Linked DNA regions of Homo sapiens: region 2 is linked to region 1. Evidence: fine-mapped expression QTL. A gene starts in region 1. The other region holds a variant in brackets. All regions are shown on one strand. Distances are between the middles of the regions.

Evidence for each region. PIP is the estimated chance that this variant, and not a neighbour inherited with it, causes the effect.
Region 2: its variant is fine-mapped to the expression of RAB38 in whole blood (TOPMed, PIP above 0.99).

The regions. Positions count from the first base shown.
Region 1 is chr11:88,170,059-88,183,165 of GRCh38, reverse strand. RAB38 (RAB38, member RAS oncogene family) reads left to right here and starts at 7,723. Exons shown (of 3, transcript NM_022337.3): 1 at 7,723-7,983. The coding sequence starts at 7,782. It overlaps MIR3166 (microRNA 3166), which reads right to left and starts at 6,664; the gene lies at 6,573-6,664.
Region 2 is chr11:88,284,566-88,295,463 of GRCh38, reverse strand. It overlaps CTSC (cathepsin C), which reads left to right. Exons shown (of 7, transcript NM_001814.6): 7 at 956-1,872. The coding sequence ends at 1,458. Among named protein-coding and RNA genes, the nearest start is that of CTSC, 48 kb to the left of the region's middle. The variant G/C (reference allele first, on the strand shown) is at 4,841.

The DNA.
Region 1 (13,107 bases):
TATCAATAACATTTCCATAAAAATGAAATGAATATAGAAAAGCAGGAAAATATATAAAAAAGAAGCAATAATCTCACTATCCAGAGATAAACTCTAATATGTGGGTACATAATTTTCTGTACCTTTTTTCCATCGACAATGTGTGCATGTTTGTGTAAAATGGAAATTATGTATTTTATGCTAAATTGGGGACTCTAACTTTTTGTGATTTGTTGACCTCCCATTTAAAAATGTTATGAAAAAAATTGTGAACATTTTTCCAGCTGCAATATTTTCTTCAACATTGTTTATAAAGGCTGTATAATGTGCCAGCACATACGTATACCATTACAATATTTAACCTCATGTGTATTTAGGGAGTTGTGAATTTTTGTTTTTATAAGCAACACTGCAATCGGAATTCTTAAAGCTAAATCGTCACATACATCTTTAGTGATTTCCTTACCATAAATTCCTAAAAATGGAATTAACAAAGGGCACATGCATTTTAAGGTTTTTGATACATATAACCACATTTCCCTTTAACAACTTTTTCTTATGTTAGTCCCACCACAGGATCATATGATAGTATCCATTTTTTACATTCTCATCAAAATTGGATATTTTTAGTACTAAAATATATTTGTCAATTTAAAAAGTAAAAAATGGTATTACATTATTGCTTAATTTTCATACTTTTATTACTATCCTAGTGAAAAATACACTTTTCACATTATTGGCTTTTTGTTTGTCTTGTGTGGTCAATTGCTTATTTATATCTTTATCTAATTTAGTGTTTAAAAAATTATTAGAACAATTTAATATAAGGTATATTTCCTTTTGCCTGTCTTAAATGTTGTAAAATTTTTCTCATTCTGAAAGTATCATTTTTCTTGCTTCTGGTAATTGTTAATGTCTACACGTTTAGTTTTTTTTTTTTCCTTTTATTATTTCTGCCTTTCACATAATATTCAAAGGTCCTTTCTCCACAATAATAATGCATAAATATTCACCTTTTTGTTATAATAGTAATTTTGTGAAGTAGTGGAAATGCTGTCAGGAATTTGTCTGAGATGGGTAACAAAGAGAGAGGAATCAAGAGTGACTGAGTTTTTGAGCTTGGTAGACTTTGGTGAGGGTGGAACCACTGACCAAAAACCAGGAATACAGGAAAGGGAACAAGTCTGTTAGGGTAGATAATGAGTTCAGTTTTGCACATGTTGCATTTAAACTGTCTGCCAGAAAGCCTGGTAGAAATGCCCAACGGGCAGTTGGAACAAGTTTATGGAATGCAGGAGTAAGGTTGTGTTTTAAATACAGATATAGAAATCATCAGCAGACATTTGATAGTTTAACAACATGTTCTTTTCAGTGCATATCCTGGGCCAAGCACTATGCTAAGCACTTCACAGAATTTTATTTGGTCTTCTCAAAAAAAAAATAGGAGGTTAAAATTATTATCCTCATTTTATACATGAAGGGACAAGCTTGCAAAAGTTAAACTACTTTACAAAGTTCTTATGACTGGGTAGTGGTAGAACTTGAATGTGAAATCAGGTAAGCTCACCTGATTCCAGAGTTCCTAACCCCATTTGCTCTATTGTCACAGGAGTAGATGAGCTCAAGCAGGGAAAGTCAGAGTCCCAAGGATGAAGAATAGCAAACTTTAGTGGATGGGCAGAAAAGAAGGGAAGTTGTGAAGGAGTCTAAGAAGGTCAGAGTGGAAGGCAGAAGGTCATGTGTATACATGCTGATGCTTTAACCAGAATGGAAGCATTTTTGATGGCAGGGACTTATATCTTATACACTCTTTGAGATAAACGTGAGACCTTTCTTCTGACCCTGATCCTCAAAAAACTCTGTTACAATGCTTTGTACATAAATATTTCTTCGTTTATGCTGTGATGGTCTGTCAGTAATTTTCTTGCGTTAACCTTCTGAGCTAGACCCTACCAGTCTCTCTGTCATCACCCATTATGGAATAGGGGTTCATTCACTGTACAGCCTCAGTACTATCCTATCGCCTTCTCTGAGAGCAACAGAAGTAGATTCCTTGTATATGCTCTCTATGTGCACTGGGTCAGACCTCTCCCCACAAATGCACAGCATGCCACTTTTACTTGTGTTGACTTTCTGCCCGAGTTGGTGAGAGATTATGGGATATATCCTTTTATCTTTGAATCATAGATTTTTCTTTTCTTCCTTTATTGGCTGTTTCCCTGCATAGTTAAGACTTTATCAAATGGAAATAGAATCAATCTCTTTTCTTTATAGCCTGAATATTTAGTAGCATAGCAGAAACAAAGCTACAGTAGAAGCCTGGACCTGGAATTTATCACATGCTAAAGGAGTGTGGTATAGTAGAAAAAGCACAGATTTAGGAATTACTGGTTACGATTCTCATGCTGTCACTCCATATCTGTGACTTTGGAAAAATTATTTAAATTCTTTGAGCCCTATTTCCCTCATTATAAAGTGAAGATACTTGCTACAGAGTGGTCGTGAAGATCAAATAAACTTACCAAGATAAAGGGCTTAGCTCATTGTAGGTTCCCAGGATAAGGAAGTTGAAATTCTAGTACATACAGAATCATTTTTCTCCATGTTCTCAGATGCTTGCCTTTCGGCCATTCCATAGCTTATTTCCACTCATCCATGTTAGATGTGTTAGTAGAAAAATACACCCCGATTCAGCCATGCCTGTCTGGCACAGCTAAGGCACATAATTTTAGTTGGTGATAAATACACTGCTGAAAATGGTTTAGGTCATACTCTGGTTTTCTTGATTCATACTACTGGTGGGTTAAAAAATGCACTTACAATCAGTTTCTCATGATAACCCGTAAATATCCTATTGTAGTCTTTTTTTTTCTGGAAAAAAATCTAGCCAGAAATTTCTCATAGACTGAAGAGTATTTATTTCAAGAACATCCCATACAGAATCCATCTTGGCCTCTCTCCAAATAACCCAAAAGTTGCTTCCTACTTCTAGACATCTGCTGCAATCCTGAATCAATACTAGATGACTCAAATTGCAAGTTAGCACAGGTTTCAGACAAGCCTAGTGGGTAAAGAGAGAACTTTTTGAAGACAAGAAAGAAATAAGCTGCAACTTTAACTTGGCAGACCTATTTATTAAAATTGTGGTTTAGGAGAATTTTCCAAAGCCCCTATAGCTGTAGATCTCATTTGAGAGCCTCAACTTCTCCCTCTTCTTTAGGAATGAATATTCTTTAGGAAAGTCCTGGCTTGTTCCTGTTGTTTGGTGTAATTATTCATAGTGCCCCCTTTCACTCTCAAGAGTCATAGTTTGAATGATAAAATATATGGTCATTTCTTCCAGGCCTTTTGCAGAGTAAAATTCATCTGTTGTAAGATATATTTCTTGTATTAATCTAAGAAAAATTAGATTACCTTTTCTATAACAGAGCCCTTGGGACCCCATCTTGCAGTCATTTACATATTTCTTCAGAGCAATAATTAAAAGCTCACATAAGCTAATGAATAACTCCCCATGGCTCTCTTAATGGCAAAAGCAAATAATGTGACTTCACAGGGGCTCACCAAACACAGCAGCTCTAGGAGGAAAACATGAGGGTTTGTCCCTTCAAGTTTACATTTGCAAAGCAATTTGCAATCATTGTAGTTTTTCCATTTCATAAGACTAAGTACCCACATTGGACAGAAAGGGAATGGAGACTAAGAGAAACCTAATGCTGTGCCTTCTGGGATATCATTCTTGGCTTGAATTCTGAGCACTTTGTGGTCTCACACACCTTTTACAAACTTGAGTCATCAGCCTTCCCGACCTTGGTGAGAAGATGTGCTGTGGTTTAGCAATTTGAGGGTAGTAAGCTTGTCAAAACATCACCAGAGATGTTTTGAGAATTACTGTGGAGAACAGGTTTCCATGGTGCAGTGTGGCTGCTGGGAGGGGGACGAATGGCACAGCTGTTCTCTCCATGGGGAGGAAGCACTGGATCTTTTGTGTCAGAAAAAGCTGAGATCCTCCTGATAATCCTAAGCCATCTTGACAGGTATATGTTCAGGTTGGGGAAGATAGGTTCTGAAGAAGCATCATAATTGCAGGGGACAGGGTTGAATGAAAGAGGAGGCAAGAATGGTCTAGCTGCTTGATAATATCCTTTCCATCTATTCACTGTCTGGCTTGATCCAGTTTATAGTTTGTCCCTGGCTACCTGGCTCCCTGTCTGCAGCCTAGTTCTGAGTGTAGAAAATAAGTTCAAAGCAAGGAAGGGGAGTACATGAAGGTTTGTCCTCCAAAAAGAATGTTCTTGGATTGCCTTTGTCTTGTGGGAAAATGTACAGCAGCAGAGGAAAGAATAGCACCATGAAACCAGAGGAGAACTATGGCATCATGTTTGCTTTGAGATGGCCTTTCTTCCAAACCTAAAAGAGGAGAGAAAACATCACCTCTTTGGCAGTGGTGCTCTTGTGGGGTGACTAGAATCAGCTAGGGTGTCACTCCTACTAGACAATGTCTAGAAGACCCAGAATTCTGATATTTTAGAGTCCAAAGGACTTTCCAGAGATCTTGCAACCTAACTCCCTCATTTTACCCAAGGGACTTTCAGGTTCAGAGACCTAGGCGCCTTTTACGAAGATTTTACTGAACTGCTAGGCTGGGGTGCTTACCAAGCTACTGTAATCTAAAAGTCTTAAAAATATAAACCGAGAGTAATTTCTTCCCACTGTGAAGAATGATCATGAGACCTAAATGAGTACGGCTGGAAACAAAACTGCACATACTTCCTGCCTGGCCAAGGAACTTGCTCACCATGGTTGGCTGCTGTCCCTGAGAGAGGAATCTCCTACCCCCAGAGAGGCAATAAAACTGAAGCTTCAGGACCCCTTCCAAGGCCCTAGACCTAATTATATATTTTTGATTTTGCATTCTTTTGCTCAAAAAGCTACTTCCTCCAATTTTATCAGCTTCAGGACCAGAAATCCTGAACTTTGCCCTGCCTGTCCTACCTCATAAATCCAAATGTCTGATGTTCCAATATGCTCTTGCTCAAAAGAGAACAGATAAGGGTGAGGATGACTCTGCCGGGACCAGGCTTGGGAAAACAGTACGGGGCTGGTAAGAAAGTTGGGTTGGGTATAATTTTGAAGGCTGGCCCACAAGATGTCTCAAACTCCTACCTTGTTTCTACCCCAGGAGCTTGTTGGCCAGACAAAGCCTGTCTCTCAGATTTACAGACCCAGGATTTTAGAGCTGGCAAAGGTCTCATTTTGTCATCCTCCCTAATTTTGCAGGCATTTAGAATGGCTTAAGCATCTTGGGCTACTGAATTCCCCTCCCTGGGAAGTGAGGTGACATTGTTGGCTAATTCTTTAAGCAGGTAGAGTATTTGTCTCACTTGTTAGATGTGATCTTCTTGGTGTGTCCTCGCATGGGTGGAAACCAGTAAATGAGGCCTACCCAGCTAAGCACTTCAATAAAACACAAACGACTGCAATTCTACACACTGTCACTTAGTGTCCATTCTGAGCAAAACTTCTGAGTTACTCTCTGAGGAAAGATGAAACTGCACAGGACAGTGCCTGTGGACAGTATTTTAAGCTTGTCCCTCATTTCATAGTAATAGCTACAATTTATTTACCACCTACTATGGACCCAGCATTTTATCAACAATTTCATTTGTATTTATTTATTTATTTATTTATTTATTTATTTAGAGATAGAGTCTTGCTCAGGTTACCCAGGCTGGAGAGCAATGGTGTGATCTTGGCTCACTGCAACCTCTGCATCCCTGGTTCAAGATAGTCTCCTGTCTCAGCCTCTCAAGTAGCTGGGATTATAGTCACCTGCCACCACGCCCGGCTAATTTTTGTATTTTTAGTAGAGACGGGTTTCACCATGTTGGCCAGGCTGGTCTTGAACTCCTGACCTCAAGTGATTCACCCACCTCAGCCTCCCAAAGTGCTTGGATTACAATCATGAGCAACCATGCCCTGCCATAGGTATTATCATTCTCCTTTCGTTGATGTGGAAACCAAGGCTCAGAGGTTATGTGACTTGTCCCGGGTACACATCTTCAGCATCCCTCTGCTTGTTTGGGGCATGTGGAGGCTAAAGTTTAGGGAGTGTCAGGCCAGAAGAGGAAGGCAGAAAGACAATGGCCTTGCCAAACCTCCTTTCTCCCTTTCACACAGGCCTGTGTTTAAGTCCTAGTTCTAACACATACTAGTTATGTGTGCCCTTGAGAAAGCTGCTGTTAATCTTGGTTTCCTTATTTATAAATTGAAGAAAATAACCCACTTCATAAAGCAATTGAGAAGATGAAATGATAGAATGTGAGCAGAGCTCCTTCACAGCACATTCAGGTACAAAATAGCTCATTTTGGTATAAACTGCTCACCCCCTAGCCCTGAATGCCCAATTTCTCATTTTCTTTATGTCTTTACTAAATTGTCTCCATCTTACTGAAACCTTCCCTGGCCACCCTATCTAAAAGGCAAACCCCATATAATCTCTTCACATCCCCTTTCTGCCTTATTTTATTACCAATTAATATATGACAAATTGTATTTATTTTGTCTTGTCCTGTCTCCACCCACAAGAAGGTAAATTTTTCTTAGGCCAGTAGGCATTGTCTGCGTTAGGAGGATGATACAGAAATCCTAACGCAGACAATGCCTACTGGCCTCAAAAAAATTTACCTTCTTGTAGGTGGAGACAGACAAGACAAAATAAGTACAATTTGTCATATATTAATTGGTAATAAAATGTATATTGGTCAAATGAATGAAAACAAACAACAAAAACAACAAAAAGAAGTTGGGAACCTAAAGACCTATGTTTGAATTTGGTTTTTTTCCTTACTATTTGACTCTGGGTCCATTACTTAAAATGTCTGGTCCTTAGCTTCCTCATTTGTAAAATAGGAAGAAAAATGGTATCTATTATTAAGACAGCTGGGATGACTAAATGACATAATTTATAAACCCTCTGGCATATAGCGAGTGCTCAATAAATGTTTGCCATTATTATTATTTGTAATAATCTGACCGATTGTTAAAACTGTCTTTCTGTGCAGCTCTGAGTTTTTAGGATATGGGAAGAGGCTAAAAGTCACCAGTGCCCTTGGCATTTTCGGCCCAGTTGTCCTCCTTGTTAACTGATTACCAGTTGAATGGGTGTGAAAGTGCTCAGTGTTCCCACCTCCAAGCTGCTCAGAGGTCAGCATTGCCATTCATTGAGAAATAACAGGCTGTGAGAGCTCAAATGACTTACTTATGGTCCCTCAACTTAAAAACCAGGGCACGCAGGAACCAAGCCCAGCCAGTCTTGGGCTTCCTAATACTGTAATTTCTCTCTACAGTGTGGGGTAGTTAAGAGCCTGTGACTTCAGACCTGTGGTCAACGGGGCCTTTCACCGGCCATCTCCCGCAGAGTACTTTTTCACAATCAGTTTTCTCGCAAGCAAAACGTGGAAAATAAGATCCACACCTCACAAGTTTGTGGCCAGGGTCACAGGTGAAAACAGCTCTTCGGAAACTCTAAAGCGCCGGATAAATAAGCGCTGCAACAGGCAACCACACGCGAACCCCTTTCAGCTGCCAGTCCCGGGACTCGCTCCTGTCTCCTCCCCTCTCCAAGACCGCGGAGTAGGAAGGAGGATTAACCCCTAGGGGAGGAGTTCCGCCCCCCAGCCCCCGCCCCGCCGCCCACGCCTCTCTCTGCACCTACACTTGCGCTCCCCAAGTCTCTCTCGTGCGCAGAGCCCAGGCTGCGCTTCCCTGGTCAGGCACGGCACGTCTGGCCGGCCGCCAGGATGCAGGCCCCGCACAAGGAGCACCTGTACAAGTTGCTGGTGATTGGCGACCTGGGCGTGGGGAAGACCAGTATCATCAAGCGCTACGTGCACCAGAACTTCTCTTCGCACTACCGGGCCACAATCGGCGTGGACTTCGCGCTCAAGGTGCTCCACTGGGACCCGGAGACTGTGGTGCGCCTGCAGCTCTGGGATATCGCAGGTGAGCGCGGGGGGAGGGGGTCAGGGGGATAGAGCGCCTCGCGGCCGGTTTCCAGTCTCGAGGCAGCGGCTTGCGGCCAAGCGTGAGATTAAAATCACTAGGTCGCGAGGCAGTTTTTCCTGGTGGGCTGGAAACTTAGTTTCAAAGAAAAGAAAAACGTCTGAAACTTCAAGTGCATTCCCTGGCGCTTTTGGGCTATTGCTTTAGCTCCTTCCCGCACAGTCCCCTGGGATCTCTCTGCCCAGAGCAGGCCTCCCCAGGGAACCAGAGGAAGATTGTCTGCAATTGCATTCTGTTCTCCACTCCAGCTCGTTTTCTGGGCGCGGGCAGTTCTGCCAATGACGCAGCCCAGTGTCACGCACGTCCTTCCGTGCAGGGGCGGACCGAGGGGAAGCCCCTAGGCTGGTTCACAGAGGAAACCGGGATAGTTCCAGGCTAGCTGGAGTTTGCCCATTCCTGTCTTCAGTGGCTCACTTTATTTCAAATTTTGTCACCTTTCTCTCTGCCCTTAAGACAAAGGAGTTTGAGGGTTTTTGTTTTGTTTTTTTTTTTTTTTTTTTTTGCTTTTTGCTTACAGTAAGCCAAGTACTTTTGTGTGTATATGTCAGGGGCAAAGTATTCTTTCTCCCTCTCTTTCTGTATTTCTATCTCTCTGGCTCTCTGTCTTCTATGAAAAGGAGGTTGTGTGTATATTTTAAGGCCATTTTTATGTAAGGGCCTATGATAGCCTTATGATTTCTTGATTTGGCCCTAAAGTTTTCATTGAGAGATCTGAAAAATGAGAGGTTGTTTGTTTTTGTTTTTTACAATATTTAAAATCAGATTTTGACTCCACAGGTTTGTACCAGAAGTTAGGCCTAGTCAAAAGTGAGGGTGCAATGTATCTACTCCAAGTGTGAATCCTTGGACAAGGCTGTTTGCAACCTGCGCATGACCAACCCCTCATTACAGATTTTAGCCCTGCCACTAACTAACCTGCTCAGTGGCTTTGGACAAGTCTCTTCAGCTCAGTTGCATCGCTGTTAAGTGGAAAGGAGTTGGGCAAGGGTCAAGGATCTTCCTGCTCAGAAGTTTTAAAGTCCTCTGGGATTCTCCATGGGAACAACTTCAAACAGTCTTATTTCATGGTCTGTGACACCAGGAACCTTTCGTTATAAGTGCTGGACCCAAACTAGCCACTTCTGTTTCAGAAAATGGATTCATTTTAGCTGATGCATTTGATTGGAAACTCTTTATCATGGCTTGAAACTAGAACAAATGTGGAAAATTTTTGAAAGGGCATTTGTGATCTGGGGACTTTCGTGCCTCTTTAATCATGAACTGCCAGGCCTTTTTCTTTTAGCATGTGAACAGATGAACAGATTCATGCATTTGGAGTCATCTTCAGCTGCTCTAGTAGCAAGGGGGTTATCAGAGAACAGAAAATGTTATCAGCCACTGTTGGATGGGGCTTTTCATCTAAAAAAATTCTCTCTGTGTACTTTCTTGCTGCATGTCATAATGTCTGAAAACCCTTCTGGCTGCTCGAAAGTCCTCAGGATTCAGATTTAGAAACGGCTTACTGTTTAAACGGGGATGTAGCTGTAATTTGGACTTCTGTGTACAATCCAGGTAACAGCATGACAGCAGAGAAGTTCTATGTCTGTAGATTTCAGTCTCCTCACATAAACAGAAGAGATGGAAGGGTACAGTGATTAATAGCCCAAATTCCAGAGTTGAACTGCCTCCATCTGGATCCTTACTTTACTCTGCATGTAGTAGGCAATCTTAGGTAAGTTCTCTAACCTCCTTGTTTTGGTTTCCTTACTTGTAAACAGGGAGAATGCTTTCTCCCAATAGATGACAGGTGAGCAACCAACAGTGCTAGCTGAAGGTGATCATGCCTGTTCTCTAGGAGATCTGCAAGGATTATTATCACACTAGCTACCATTTTTTTAAGCCTATATAAATGCTAGGCAAGAAGGATATGATATACAAGTGCTTATTAATTCCTAATAAATTGTGATCCCAATATTACATATATATTTTGTCCCCAAGTTATCACCATTTTCAGCTTTGCTCCTGACATACTCTCAGGAGCAATTTAACTCCCAAGCTCGAAAGCACTTCGTTAGCCATGTTTTGTAGACTGAAGTTGCAGTGGAGGCTGTAGTCACAGAAGTCTGTATAAATAAGAAATCTGAAGTCTTGGGAAGTTCATTCTACAGATACTGCGGTGGTGTTACATTCAACATCTCAGTAGAGGAGCTTGTTTTTCCCAGAGCTCTAATGCTCAGTGGTAACCTGTCTTTAGCAGCCTTAAGCCCAAAGGCCCTGTTAGCTGAATTATAGATTGGACAGCAGGCACAGTGAATTGGGTGAAAGCTAGGCCACTGTAGGAAATGGTTGGAACATGCACGTGCTCCATGTTTCATGGTTTAAGCTGCATAGGGAGCCATGTGGGTTATGAGTTCATGTGAAATACAACCTCAACTGCCCACCCAGACTCCAGTCAGCCAGGTGTACCTTATAGTACTTTCAAATCACAGCCTGTCTGTCCACAGATAAGAATGCATCTCTCCGTCCTTAGTGTTCAACTCTGGTGTGTCCCCGGAGAGAGCAGGTAGTGGAGGTTAGTGGGCCTAGCTTTGAGAAGGTTGTGGGTGTTCAATGAGATAGAGAAGACCTGCACTGTTCTGATAGGATATCATATACATTTGTTATTAAGGGAATCTTGGCTCAGCTAGACTCTTGATACTCATTTGGTTCAATGCCAAATAGGGCCCTTTTTAATCTACTAAATTCCCATGATGTGTCTCTTATAGCCATGTAGATTGGCCAGTCTGATCTTGAAAGACTCCAAAAAGTATCTCTGGGGTCTTGTGAAGTAGGCCTTGAAACAAGATGATAAATCCCACCAAACCCCATAGGGGACAGCAGTTGGCCTGGATTCCAGTGATTCCATGCTAGAAGGTCAGCTGTGTGTTCAGAGGCTCCTGATAGAGTCAAAGAAATGAAGTAACTTTGCCTGAGGCCACCCAGCTAGTAGAGGAAGAGCCAGATTTGACCCGGTTCCGTTTCACTCAGAGTCAAGCCTTGCTGTTTGCACTTGCTGGCCTGTGAGTGCCTGGCACACAGCTGGCCCACAGGGATTATGCCTTCTTTTTAAAGGTGTTGTTTCATTAGTAGGTGGGTTAAACTTACCTTCTCCTTTCTAACTGGATTTTTGGTATTATTAAGTACCACTGTGCATTCAGTGAAAAGGAATGAATTAAAATCTATTTCTGAAAATTTTATCTTGATTAGGATGTGAATTTATAGAGTTTTTAAAAAAATAGGTCATTTAGGGAAAATGAAAACAAAAAGTTCACACTTGAGACTCCACTTTTTTATTACTCTCCAAATCCAGAGACTATAATTGCTCATTCACCCTTTCAAAAAGAACTGTACTATCTTGTCTAGAACTCTTGATGTGCTTTGGGACTCTGATCTAGGCATTGGGACATTTATAGGGATAGTAGCTAATATTTCTTAAGCCCTTATTCTTATGAATGTCCAGGCATATTTAATCTATAATTTCCCAGTATAATAGCTGGTTAGGCCACTAGAATTTAAAATTGACCATTGAATCTGTTTTCAAAAGATTTGCTCTACTGTCCTTAATTTGAAAACAGAGCACTTCAGACATAGTTTAAATATATTCTAAATTTAGATACTCTGAAAATATAATTAGGCAAACTGTGAAACCTTGCTGAACCTCAATTGCCTCATCTATAAAATGATGATTATTTAATTTTCCTGTGATACTTATTTTATCTTTTGTAGTCTCTGTAAGCAAAAGGTTTATTATCACTGTCCTCAGGGTATAGGTAGCACATGGTCATTTATTCCAGCTTCTTTACTTACTAGCTTTGTGACTTGTGTGAGTTACTTAGCCTCTGTGCCTTCGTTTTCTGTCTGTAAAATGGGAATAATAACAATACCTGCATCTTAGTATTTTTGTAAGAATTAAATGAGTTAATTTATGCAAAGCTGTGCCTGACACATAATAAATGCTGAATGAGTGTTAGCTATTATTCCTGTTGTCATAATTGTTATTATTACAGACTGTTTTCACATACATTTTCCCACTTGATCTCCCCAGCATTGCTGAGGGTGTAGACAAGCAGATAGTCCTAAACCCAATTTTATTTAAAAAGATAAAAAATGAGAGAGGTAAGAGAGTTGCCTGAGATCATAAGTGGCAGAGGAGAATAGGAACAGTCGGTCTGTTTAGCTTCAGCTTACTTGTATGAGTGAGATAACCAAGTCTGTTGGTAATAAAAAAACCCAATCCAGTTTTATATTGCTATAGTGGAAAATAAATTAAGTTGGCAGACAATTTAGAGAGTGTTTCGAGTGTTTCTTTGCTATGTAAAAGTTTGACTGCAGAGCTCTGCTAAATAACAAATGCCTCTAAATACTTAAAATAAGATCTACCCTATAAGAAAAATATTTCCACTCAAGGCACATCTATACCAGCTTCCCCCACCTAAGCCATGTGACATGACAGCAGAAGAATACATTAACTGTCCCATAGACAAAGTAACAGGATGAAGGCAGCCCAGGCCCAGTGTCAGGAGTCCTTAAACTGACTCTTCACACCAGCAACTCTGACACTTATTTGGGTCACATTGTTATGTTGTTTTAGAGTTTGTGAAGTTCTTTCAGGTTGTGAAATTCAACCAAAGATAGGATTCGGACTTAACTATCTCTTTAGTACCGATTTCTGAAAGACTATTTCTTCAAGCAGTTGTAGAAGATGGGTCTTAAATGTCAAAGTAGTAGGTCTAGGAATGTAGAAAGAGCTAAATTTGGCGATGAGTGTGTCAAATAAAACCCCCCAAAATGCATATCGAGTCTGAGCCATGCTCCACTGGGCAGTTTATTGCCTTGTTTCTAGCTTAGCTAATTACAGATTTTCTAAATGCCACGTAAAATAACATGCTATGTTCTTACGGGTAAATAATGTGTACAGTGAGCAAAAATGGTGAACTTTCAAAGTAGGAATGAGGGATATATGGAGAAAACGCCTCAAGGCAGGACATGTCGTGTCATCTGGGTTTTAGAGGACTGATTCTGATAGAAAAGCAAGTAGCAGCTTGA
Region 2 (10,898 bases), 110 kb before region 1:
AGGCTGCAGTGAGCCGATATCATGCCACTGCACTCCAGCCTGGGCAAACGGAGTGAGGCCCTGTTATGAAAAAAAAAAAATCTGTACTTAGGCTTTCAGATCAGGCTGTATGTGATGTATGTCGAAAACACAGCTATAATTGATTGAGGGAGAAACGTTACCATTTTAAAGTTTATGCTTTCAAGCCCAGATTTGGCCACTAGGAATTTCCCAGCTCACTAGTGAAACTGCTGATGAGTGATTATTTGCCAGTGAGCCTTTCATTCTTTCTAAAATATGTACTACTAGTTGTGACTTGTAGGCTATAGGGGCTATAATATATCAAGACAATCTTTATCCTCATGAAGCTTACAGTTAAGTAAGAGATAGAGATTAAATAATTATAACAACAGAGTGAAGAACAGTGAAGAAAAAGTACAGAGTTATAATATATATAATAGGGCCAGGACTGCATGAGGAAGGTAGGAAAGACATTTCGGCAAGAGGTTGTCAGGGAAAAGACTTGCTTGAGAAAGAGCCAAGTTGTGGGGTCTGGCTGCTTAGCAATGACCATAATACCTAACTTTTGCTATTTTTACATGAAGTAACTAATTTAACCCTATGAGGAAAGTACTACTACCATCTAGATTTTACAGGTAAGTAAGCAGAGATACAGAGAAGTTAAACTCTTCACACGGCTTTGGCTTTAAACCTATATAGGCTTCAGAGCCTCCCCACTTAACCACTTTGCCATAGCTACATCCATATTAGGTGCTAAGTAGATATCTGTTAAGTAGAAGGAGGATGAAAGGATAGTTAGCTAGTTGGAAAATGGATGGATGAATGAAGTGATGCTTAAGCTAAGAACAACTTTCAGGGGTAACATGCAAAGAATAATGGAGCAAAGAAGAAAAAATAGAAAATGGGATAATCCTTTTTCTACTAAGGGGTAACCATGTGTGTTATTCATCTTCAGGCTGTGAAGGCGGCTTCCCATACCTTATTGCAGGAAAGTACGCCCAAGATTTTGGGCTGGTGGAAGAAGCTTGCTTCCCCTACACAGGCACTGATTCTCCATGCAAAATGAAGGAAGACTGCTTTCGTTATTACTCCTCTGAGTACCACTATGTAGGAGGTTTCTATGGAGGCTGCAATGAAGCCCTGATGAAGCTTGAGTTGGTCCATCATGGGCCCATGGCAGTTGCTTTTGAAGTATATGATGACTTCCTCCACTACAAAAAGGGGATCTACCACCACACTGGTCTAAGAGACCCTTTCAACCCCTTTGAGCTGACTAATCATGCTGTTCTGCTTGTGGGCTATGGCACTGACTCAGCCTCTGGGATGGATTACTGGATTGTTAAAAACAGCTGGGGCACCGGCTGGGGTGAGAATGGCTACTTCCGGATCCGCAGAGGAACTGATGAGTGTGCAATTGAGAGCATAGCAGTGGCAGCCACACCAATTCCTAAATTGTAGGGTATGCCTTCCAGTATTTCATAATGATCTGCATCAGTTGTAAAGGGGAATTGGTATATTCACAGACTGTAGACTTTCAGCAGCAATCTCAGAAGCTTACAAATAGATTTCCATGAAGATATTTGTCTTCAGAATTAAAACTGCCCTTAATTTTAATATACCTTTCAATCGGCCACTGGCCATTTTTTTCTAAGTATTCAATTAAGTGGGAATTTTCTGGAAGATGGTCAGCTATGAAGTAATAGAGTTTGCTTAATCATTTGTAATTCAAACATGCTATATTTTTTAAAATCAATGTGAAAACATAGACTTATTTTTAAATTGTACCAATCACAAGAAAATAATGGCAATAATTATCAAAACTTTTAAAATAGATGCTCATATTTTTAAAATAAAGTTTTAAAAATAACTGCATTATGGAGTTTATGTTTACTTCAGGGAATTTTTATCACTGACTCAGTAAGATTCACTTATGTTACCTATGTAAGCATTTATTTAAGAAGGAAAAGCATTTGAAGATATTTCAATTAAAAACAAAACTATGAACCTTTATGACAGGGAGATATACTCAGATAATGCCTAGTGAATCCTAAAATTATCCTTGGATGTTTGATGAGTCTGAGACCTCAGAGAAAAGAAATAAGAGTTTTGACAAAATCTGGATATTGGTGAATTTATTTTCTATGGTGTGTATCTTGTATTTGGGAGTATTGCTTAGTCTTCAGTAGGTGAGCAATAATAGCTTAATGAGTGAAATACTAGCAGCTTAGATTTAAATAGATTTTTGGAATCTCCCAGAGATATTTCACAGTGGATATGAAACCTCTATGCTAAGTAACATATGCCTTCTCTTAGAAATTATGTAACAGGAGAATAAGGCAGTCAGAGCTCTGAAACATAAACACGGACCACAGCCTTTTCAAGCTGGAAAGGACCATAAAGATCATGTAATTTAAACTCTTTGCACAGATAGAGACTCAACTTAGAGGGCAAGAGATGTGTCCAAGGTCACACAGCTGGCAAGTGATGGAGTCATGCTTAAAACTTAGATCTTCGAAACCGAGTTCTCTTTGAGCACCTTCGAGCACTGAATCTCAGCATTTCCCACCAGAGTATCTGCAATCACCAGGGATACTAGCTGCATGCTTGGAAATTTCACCTTAACATTCTGAGTTTCAGAGTTTTGTGCAAAACCCACGTATTTTCTGCATTAAAATTCACTATAATGATGTTTTTACCCTCCTTGAACTGCAGTAGGGCTCCAGGAGTATGCACCATTTAAAGTTTGGCTTCCTGGACCTCCTGGCATGCTGCCACATACCTTTGATCTTTTCACCACATGGTGGCACAGAAACAGCACTGGAAGGCATAGCCAGGGTCGGAATCATTGGAAGGCCTCCAAGGAGATGAGATACATTTTCTTTTTATTGTTACTGATTGAATGTAATTTCCATCCTATTTTGTGCCCAGCCTCACTGCTATGTGAACATATAAACAGACCTTTGAAATCAAGCATAAGTTTTTTTTCACTAAAATTCATGAAGATACTATCTGTCAGTTTAACAAACACAATTCTATTTAACATGTAAGCATGAATTTATTCTCTAGTTTTCCAGTTGGACAGCAGTCGGCTGACACATGAGAACAACTCATCATGATGTAGAGTGCCTGTGATTTTGCACTATTTCATGAGGGCCCTGACTGGCTCTTAAGTAAATTCATTGCTGGTGTCATTCATTAAATACTTTAGGAAATATTAAATGGCTAAATACTGGTGTGAACCTAACTGGCATGGAAGTCAGATTATACAACATGTTTGCTTGAGGACAAGCAATGATTTGAAGAGGCCCTAAGTTTTCAGAGATTATGAGGGATTGCCCAGAATAAGAACTTAAGATAGACTACATTTCAACTTGGATTTATCTACTGTCGAAGTCTGCTTTTCCTGTTTCTGTATGACAGAAAGATCATTTATATCATCCATGTTGCAGATTTCATCAAATACAGTGACTAAATGGAACATTAGGGTTCCACAAACCATGCGATTAGACTGTTAAGCTGTACAAAAAGCAGTTGGTGTCAGTATCTAGAACTTTTTATATTGATGCTAATAGAACACATACTCGGAGTCTTTTAACAAATGGAGCTCTAGAAAAAAAAATCAGATGGGAACTCTGGCTAACCTCCCCAAAGACATTCCCAGAAAATCTACAAGGATTATCTACATAAATGATGCCACAGGTCACAAAGAAGAAAAATAATATTTAGCTGGGCAGTCTAACACAAGCATAATATTGACTCTGGAGCTGTAGTGCCTGGATAAGAGTTTTGACTCTGTATCTTATTAGCCATGAAACCTTAGGCAGTTTCCTTATCTACCTATGCACTGTGCATCCTTTCTTTCTTTCTTTCTTTCTTTCTTTCTTTCTTTCTTTCATCTCTCTCTCTCCTTCCTTCCTTCCTCCTTCCTCCTTCCCTCCCTCCCTCCCTCTTCTTTTCTTGTCTTTCTTTACTTTTTCTTTTTTCTTTTCCTTCCTTTTCCTTCCTTCTTCCTTCTTCCTTCCTTCTTCCTCCTTCCTTCCTTCCTTCTCCTTCCTTCCTTCTTCCTTCTCCTTCCTTCCTTTTTCCTTCTCCTTCCTTCTTCCTTCTCCTTCCTTCTTCCTTCTCCTTCCTTCCTTCCTTTTCTTTTCTTTCTTTTCTGTAAAAGTAGAGAAAATGGCATAGATATCTCTCTCACTGTCCGAATTTCTGACTTTTTTTTTGAGTCATGCTCACTGCAGCCTCAACCTCTTGGGACCAAGCCATCCTCCCACCTCAGCCTCCTGTGTACCTGGGACCACAGGTGCATGCCACCATACCCGGCTAATGAATTTGTCCTCTCTGAACCATTACCATTGCAACAAAGGAACTAAATGTATTTGTATTTGCATTTTTAACAGCATTACTTGCTATCTAAACTCAGGCCCTTCATCATTCCAAATGGAGGTGCTAAAGATAATTAAAGACAATGCAGTTTCCCTGATCATAAAAACTTGCTCACAGAACTCAGGAACTGAATAGATTTGGATAGTAAGGAATATGTATACATATTTCATAGAGTTCTCTGAGGGTTAAATGCCATATATATATATATATATATATATATATATATATATATATATGAAGTATATAGAACAGTGCTTAGCATATGGTAAGGAGTAAATAAATATTATCTTTTTCTGAACTCAAATTGTAAAATAATATTTTGCTATGAGGAATCAGATAAGATGTATTCTATAAATAAGCTCTATGACAAGAGGATAGAGAAGGGCTTATGAGGGGTTTTTTGTTTGTTTTTTTAAGGGCGAAAAGAACCTACAGAGGAACACTAGCACAAGGAAAC[G/C]CACAGAGAAAAGCAAAAAGCTTTATGAGTTAGGCATATGGTTTTAATTTTATTTTTTACTATAAAATTTTTTTATCCCTCACTACCACCATTCTTGTGTTGCTGCCTGTGGGAAGAGAACAAGTCTGAGAGGTGATGGAGTTTGAGAGACTACCACAGGGATGAGTAACAGGACCCAGCCAGGGAAAAGACATTGCAACTTTGAAGTGAAAAAGACTGAAGGTAATGTAAAGTCATAATAATTTGATTTTCCTATTCAGGTTCTAAAAGCATGAAGATAAAGTAAGCATAACAGATTCACATCACATTAATGCTGGAAGGTTATCTAGTCCACCTCTTGCTAAAAATGGGCCTTGAGAGGTGAAGTAACATGCCTGAGCTTCCAGCTAATAAAGATAAATCTATGCTTCAATATGTCCAGAACTTTCTATTGTACCTGCTGCCTTCCAATTAAGAAAAATGGCAAAATAATGTTTCCATTCTTAAATGTTGTGAGACCAGTAACCTCACCTTGTTCTTTAAAATCATTTCCAAGATTTGTGCCACCTCCCAGAAATCCTGTTCTCATTTCTTTGGGGCAGGTACTCTGAGTGCCAATCCATGTGTGGTGGTTTGGAAAGATTAATATAACAGTTTTCTTCTAAATATAGTGATGTTAATATAGTTATATCTCTTAACTCTAATGAAGGTTTATTTTTGGTTTAAAGCTAAGTAGAATCTTCCTGACCAAGTTTGGGGAGCTTTAGATATATCAGAATCTTCTTTGATGGGCAGCACATGGACTTAGAATTGTGTATTGGTAGTGGGTCAGTTAGTCACTGGGCCTAATGAAATATTAACTGTAAAGTATTGACCTCATTGAATTTTAGTTCCGATTAAAAGTGCAAATTTGCGTGAAATTGCCTGGGACATAAAATAATTGGAACTTCAGCAGACTTTCTGGTCATGCCATACTATGTCCTCCTAGTGATAGGAAACTGGAAATTCAGGAGATAAACTAACTCAGGCAGAAAATGCAGCACATGCCTTTTGTGTGTGTGTTTTTCCTTTTTCCTTTGAGAAGTCCATTTTTCAATATCCCTTTTCTTTAAATCTCTTTTAAGAGTTAGTAGAAGAAATTTAACCTCTTCTTTTCCAACTTTGAGGATGTGATGCTGATGTAATACTTTGGTTTTTAACTTTATGTTCTTAAAGACAATTTGTCTTCTTGAAATTCAAGTCTGTAGGTGGTTAAATGGGGAAAGAATGTGATAAACTTCAGACTCCCCAAGTTGAGAAAAAAATAGCAGACTTCTTTCTTCCTCTAATGCAAAAGGTCTTAAAGAGATTGAAATCCTAGCAATCAATTGAAAGAAATAAGTTAGAGAAATAGCTTTCTCCTGAGGAAATGAGGGAAACGCCATAAAACTAAGCGTTGTGCATTAAAGTAATCATTGAGATGATTTTTTTTTTCTGTAATGTATTTTCTGGACCTTCAAAAGTATTGAATAGTTTCACTGTAGTTTAAGATAAATGACAGAAAATAAGTGCTTTTAGTATCAGATTTTTATACCTTCATTCTCTCTTTTTGGGGGTTTCTGAAGAACTAAAAGTCTGCTTTTCTTTTAGATTGACTATTTCTATGCCACTATAAGAAATGGGCACTATTCCCAAGAGATAGCAGGTGCAATCCTAGTTCAGCAGGCTAAAATTCAGTTGGGTGAGAAGGATAAGCCTATGGAAAGAAAGTAAACAAAACAGCATTGTGCCACTAGAGAACCCAGAAATAAATTCATAGATTTTCAGCCAACTGACAAAGTTGCCAAGAACATACACTAGGAAAAGAACACCCTCTTCAATAAATGGTGCTGGGGAAACTGGATATCCATGATGTGGAGGAGAATGAAACTAGATCCTTATGACTCACCATATACCAAAGTCAACTCAACATGAATTAAAGACTTAAATGTAAGACCTGAAACTATACAAATACTAGAAGAAAACATAGGAAATGCCCAAGAACTTTAGCTTAGGCGAAGATTTTATGGTTAATATTTCAAAAGCATAGGCACACAAAACAAAAAGTATACAAATGGAGCTATAGTAAACTAAAAAGCTTCTGCACGGCAAAGGTAACAACCGACAAAGGGAAGAGACAACCTGTAGAATGGGAGAAAATATTTGCAAATGATTCATTCGACAAGGGACTAATATCTGGAATATAAAAGGAGCTCAGACAACTCACCATCAAAAAACAAAAACAAACGTACAAAAAACCCAAACAATCTCCTTAAAATGTGAGCAAAGTATCTAAACAGACGTTTCTCAAAAGAAGACATACAAATGGCTAGTAGGTATATGAAGAAATGCTCAACATCGCTAATGATTAGGGAAATGAAAATCACAATGAGACATCATTCCAGTTAGAATGGCTATTATAAAAAAGACGAAAAGTAAAAAGACACTTGTGAAAATGTGGAGAAGAGGGAACTCTTATGCACTCTTGGTGGTAATGTAAATTAGCACAGCTATTATGGAAAACAATATGGAAGTTTCTCAAAAAACTAAGAATAGAACTACCACATGATCCAGAAATTCTACCAATGGGTATTTATCCAAAGAAAAATCAGTATATCAAAAGGATATCTGCATTCCCATGTTTATTGCAGCACTCTTCACAATAGTCAAGATATGGAATTAAGTCAGCTGTCCATCAATGGATGAATAAAGAAAACATGGTATATATACACACTATGGAATGCTATTGGGCCATAAAATAGAATGAAATCCTGCAATTTGCAGCAACATTGATGGAACCTGTGGTTATTATATTAAGTGAAATAAGCCAAGCACAGAAAAACAAATATTGCATGTTCTCACTCATATGTGGGAGGTAAAACAGTGGATCCCATGGAGGTAGAGAGTAGGATAATGGTTAACAGAGGCTGGAAGGGTATTGGGGGAGAGGATAAAGAGATGTTGGTTAATGGGTACAAGCATTCAGTTGAAAGGAATAAGTTCTAGTGTTTGATAGCACAGTAGGGTAACTATATTTAATAATAATATATTGTATGTTTCAAAACAACTAGGAGAGAAGATATGAAATGTTCCCAACACAGAAATGATAAATGTTATAGGTTATGTATATGCTAAATACCTAGATTTGATTGTGACACATTTTATGCATGTATCAAAATACCGTATGTACCCCCATAAATATGCACAAATGTGTACCAATTTTTAAAAATAGCATTGTGGCACAAAAATGTCATGGTCTTTGGAACCAGAAAATCCTGATATTGAGTCTTTGCTCCACCAATGTTTGTTATTTGGACTTTGTTCAGTTATTGAACAGAGATTTCTAGTAGTCAGTGTCTTTGCCTGTTAAACAGCGTTGCTAATATCTTTTTTCAAGGGCTGTGCCAAGGTTTAAAAGAAGCAACGAGTGTTTACATATAACTTGCCTTGTTTTAAAAAAAGATTTAAAGTGTTTTGCAAAGGTTAAGACGCAATGTAAAATAAATTAAAAATAAGTGAGTGAACTGAATTAAAGGGAAGATAAACGTAGGAAAGTAGGATATACCCATGAAATAAAAGCTATATAATCTAGTACATTACCTGATACATGGGGATCATTCTTCAACGCTGGTTCTCAACTAGAGGTAATTTTGCCCCTAATGTTGGTAGACATTTGGGGTTGTCATAACTGGGGCGAGGATGGGAGTGTGCTACTGCATCTAGTTGATAGAGGCCAGATATACAGCTAAATATTCTATAGTGCACAGGACAAGCCTCCACATGAAGAATTAACCAGCCCAAAATGTCAATAGTCCTGAGGTTGAAAAAGTCCTGTCTACAACATGCTAATTCCTTTATATACTTTCCCAGCACCAAATGAATGTTATATACTTTGGAAGAGGGAAAGAATTCTGAGGGTTGAAGTAATCCCAGAAGCTTCCAAAGAGAATCTGGAACTTGAGCTGAGCTTTGAAAAAGCAAGAGGCGTAGTAAAAGGCATGGGAGGCCAAGAGACTGTGGGAAGATAGAAGCAATGAGAGAAGATTAAGACACTTCCCTTCAATTTCAAGGTGACAGATTGACCCCATTCTGCAGTAATCCCCACCCAACAGAACCTACTGACATGACTATAAAAGGTATAAAATGTATTAAATACATGGCCACAATTTATAAGAATAGAATGTCTTAATGAACCAGAAGTTGTGATAAACCCTTATAAGAAAAAGTGAGGGGAGCAAATGGGAAGTTATTGTGATAATTGAAGGCCCAAGCATGTGGGAAAATTCTGCCATAGAAGATGAAACCATTCAACTCACCCAACATTTCATCAAAATAAAGATGAGAAGGAAAGAGGTAGATTGTAACATCTTTACTTAAAGCATTGATCCTTCATGCCTGCTGGGTCATGAGCTGCTTTGAGACTGCTGAAAACTATGGATACTTTCTCCAGAAAAGTTCACTTACTTATCCCATATTTGCATAAAATTCCATTAGGCTTATGAAGATGTGTAAGCCCCAGTACTGGCAGTAAACTTTTATGTGTATGGGTGCCTCTTCCCCTAGGCAGTAGCCATTCCAAAATGCCAATATTGTTACTATTTAAAATTTTCTTTCAGTTATAGGCTGGGAGGAACCATTGAAAAGGCTTGGCAGGTGAGATTCAGGTGGCTAGACCGGTTAGGTAACTCAGCTTTGAGCCATAATCTCATCCGGGGTCAGACCTGTTGGGAAACTGAGCTCTCCATTTGTTCCCTGACCCTTAGTGGCTCTCTCAGTCCTCAGCCCTTTGTCTGTTTCTCTGGGGTGGAGATGTAGTCTTACTCATGCTATCATTGTCTCTAGAGCCAAGACTCTGACCAGTAAAATCCCACCTGGGAACTAGATTCCTTCTGCCAATGGAGAGACTTTTTAAAATGCTCACTACATGCTGTCAAGAATTGGGCATTTTGTGCAGCACCTGGATTCCCCATCATTGTGCTCCTGCTACACCCAGGAGCAAACATTATCTTCCCCCTGCCCCTCCCCTTGAACCTGACTGCTGCCTCTTTATACCTTGACTGTCCCCTGCAGCAGCTTCACCAAGTGGATACTTTATTTTTGACCCAGTTAGTTTTGCCTTTATTGGTAATAATAATGATAGCTGCCATTTATCAAGGTCTTACTTTGTGCTAGGTGGTATGGTAAGCTCTTTGCATACAACGTCTCATTGAATTCCTGGTATAGATTTTGTTTTACACATAAGGAATAAGACAAGCGAAGGAAGTCATCCATTTTCTTGGGATTTGAATCCAGGTCTCTGTTCTAGCACCATAGCTCTTAACCATACTTCCCTCAAGATGTTCTTCCTGTGCTTTTCCCAGGAGTTTGTTGATATTTCAGGTCCTGATCTCTTTTGTTCTTCCTTATCTTTTGTAAGAAACTATCGTAATTGCACAAGTCCTGAGAAATAAGAAGACACCTTCAGCATCTTAAACTAGAATAAATAAAAGAAGGGTGGCCTCCTAGAATTTAAGTCAGGAGGGAGGTGGTGGGCAATGGATGACAAGCTCTACTTTGAAGAGGTTGAATTTCAGCTGACCACTACTAAAGCAGTACAAGCTTTTCCTTTCAGCAAGTGTCTTCCCAGAAATGTGATAGCAATTTTTAGGAAGAATTTGGCAAACATAATGTTTAGCAGATTTGCAACAAATGCTATAAGCTCAAATTTTTTTTTTTTTTTTTTTTGGCAGCACACTCAGCCCTCCAAGGGGAAGTGGATTATTTTTCTTGCAAGTGCATTAGCAAGGGAGGTATTAAGGACAGCAACATTCCTTCCTGTATAAAAAAATAAATAAATAAAAGAAGAAAGATTATTGAGGCCCTCTCTGCTGTATGTAATGTACTTCAGGATGTTGGTAGAAAGATATCAACCTAGAATAAGTTCACAGAATACATTTGGTTTCACAGAAAGTTTAAAGTCAATCTGGACATTCAGTGATCTCTTTCTGTATATTTGATCTACCCATCTGCTGGGCTTTTGAAGTTTTCAATAATAAAAAATAAAAAAAGGAATAGTCCCAGC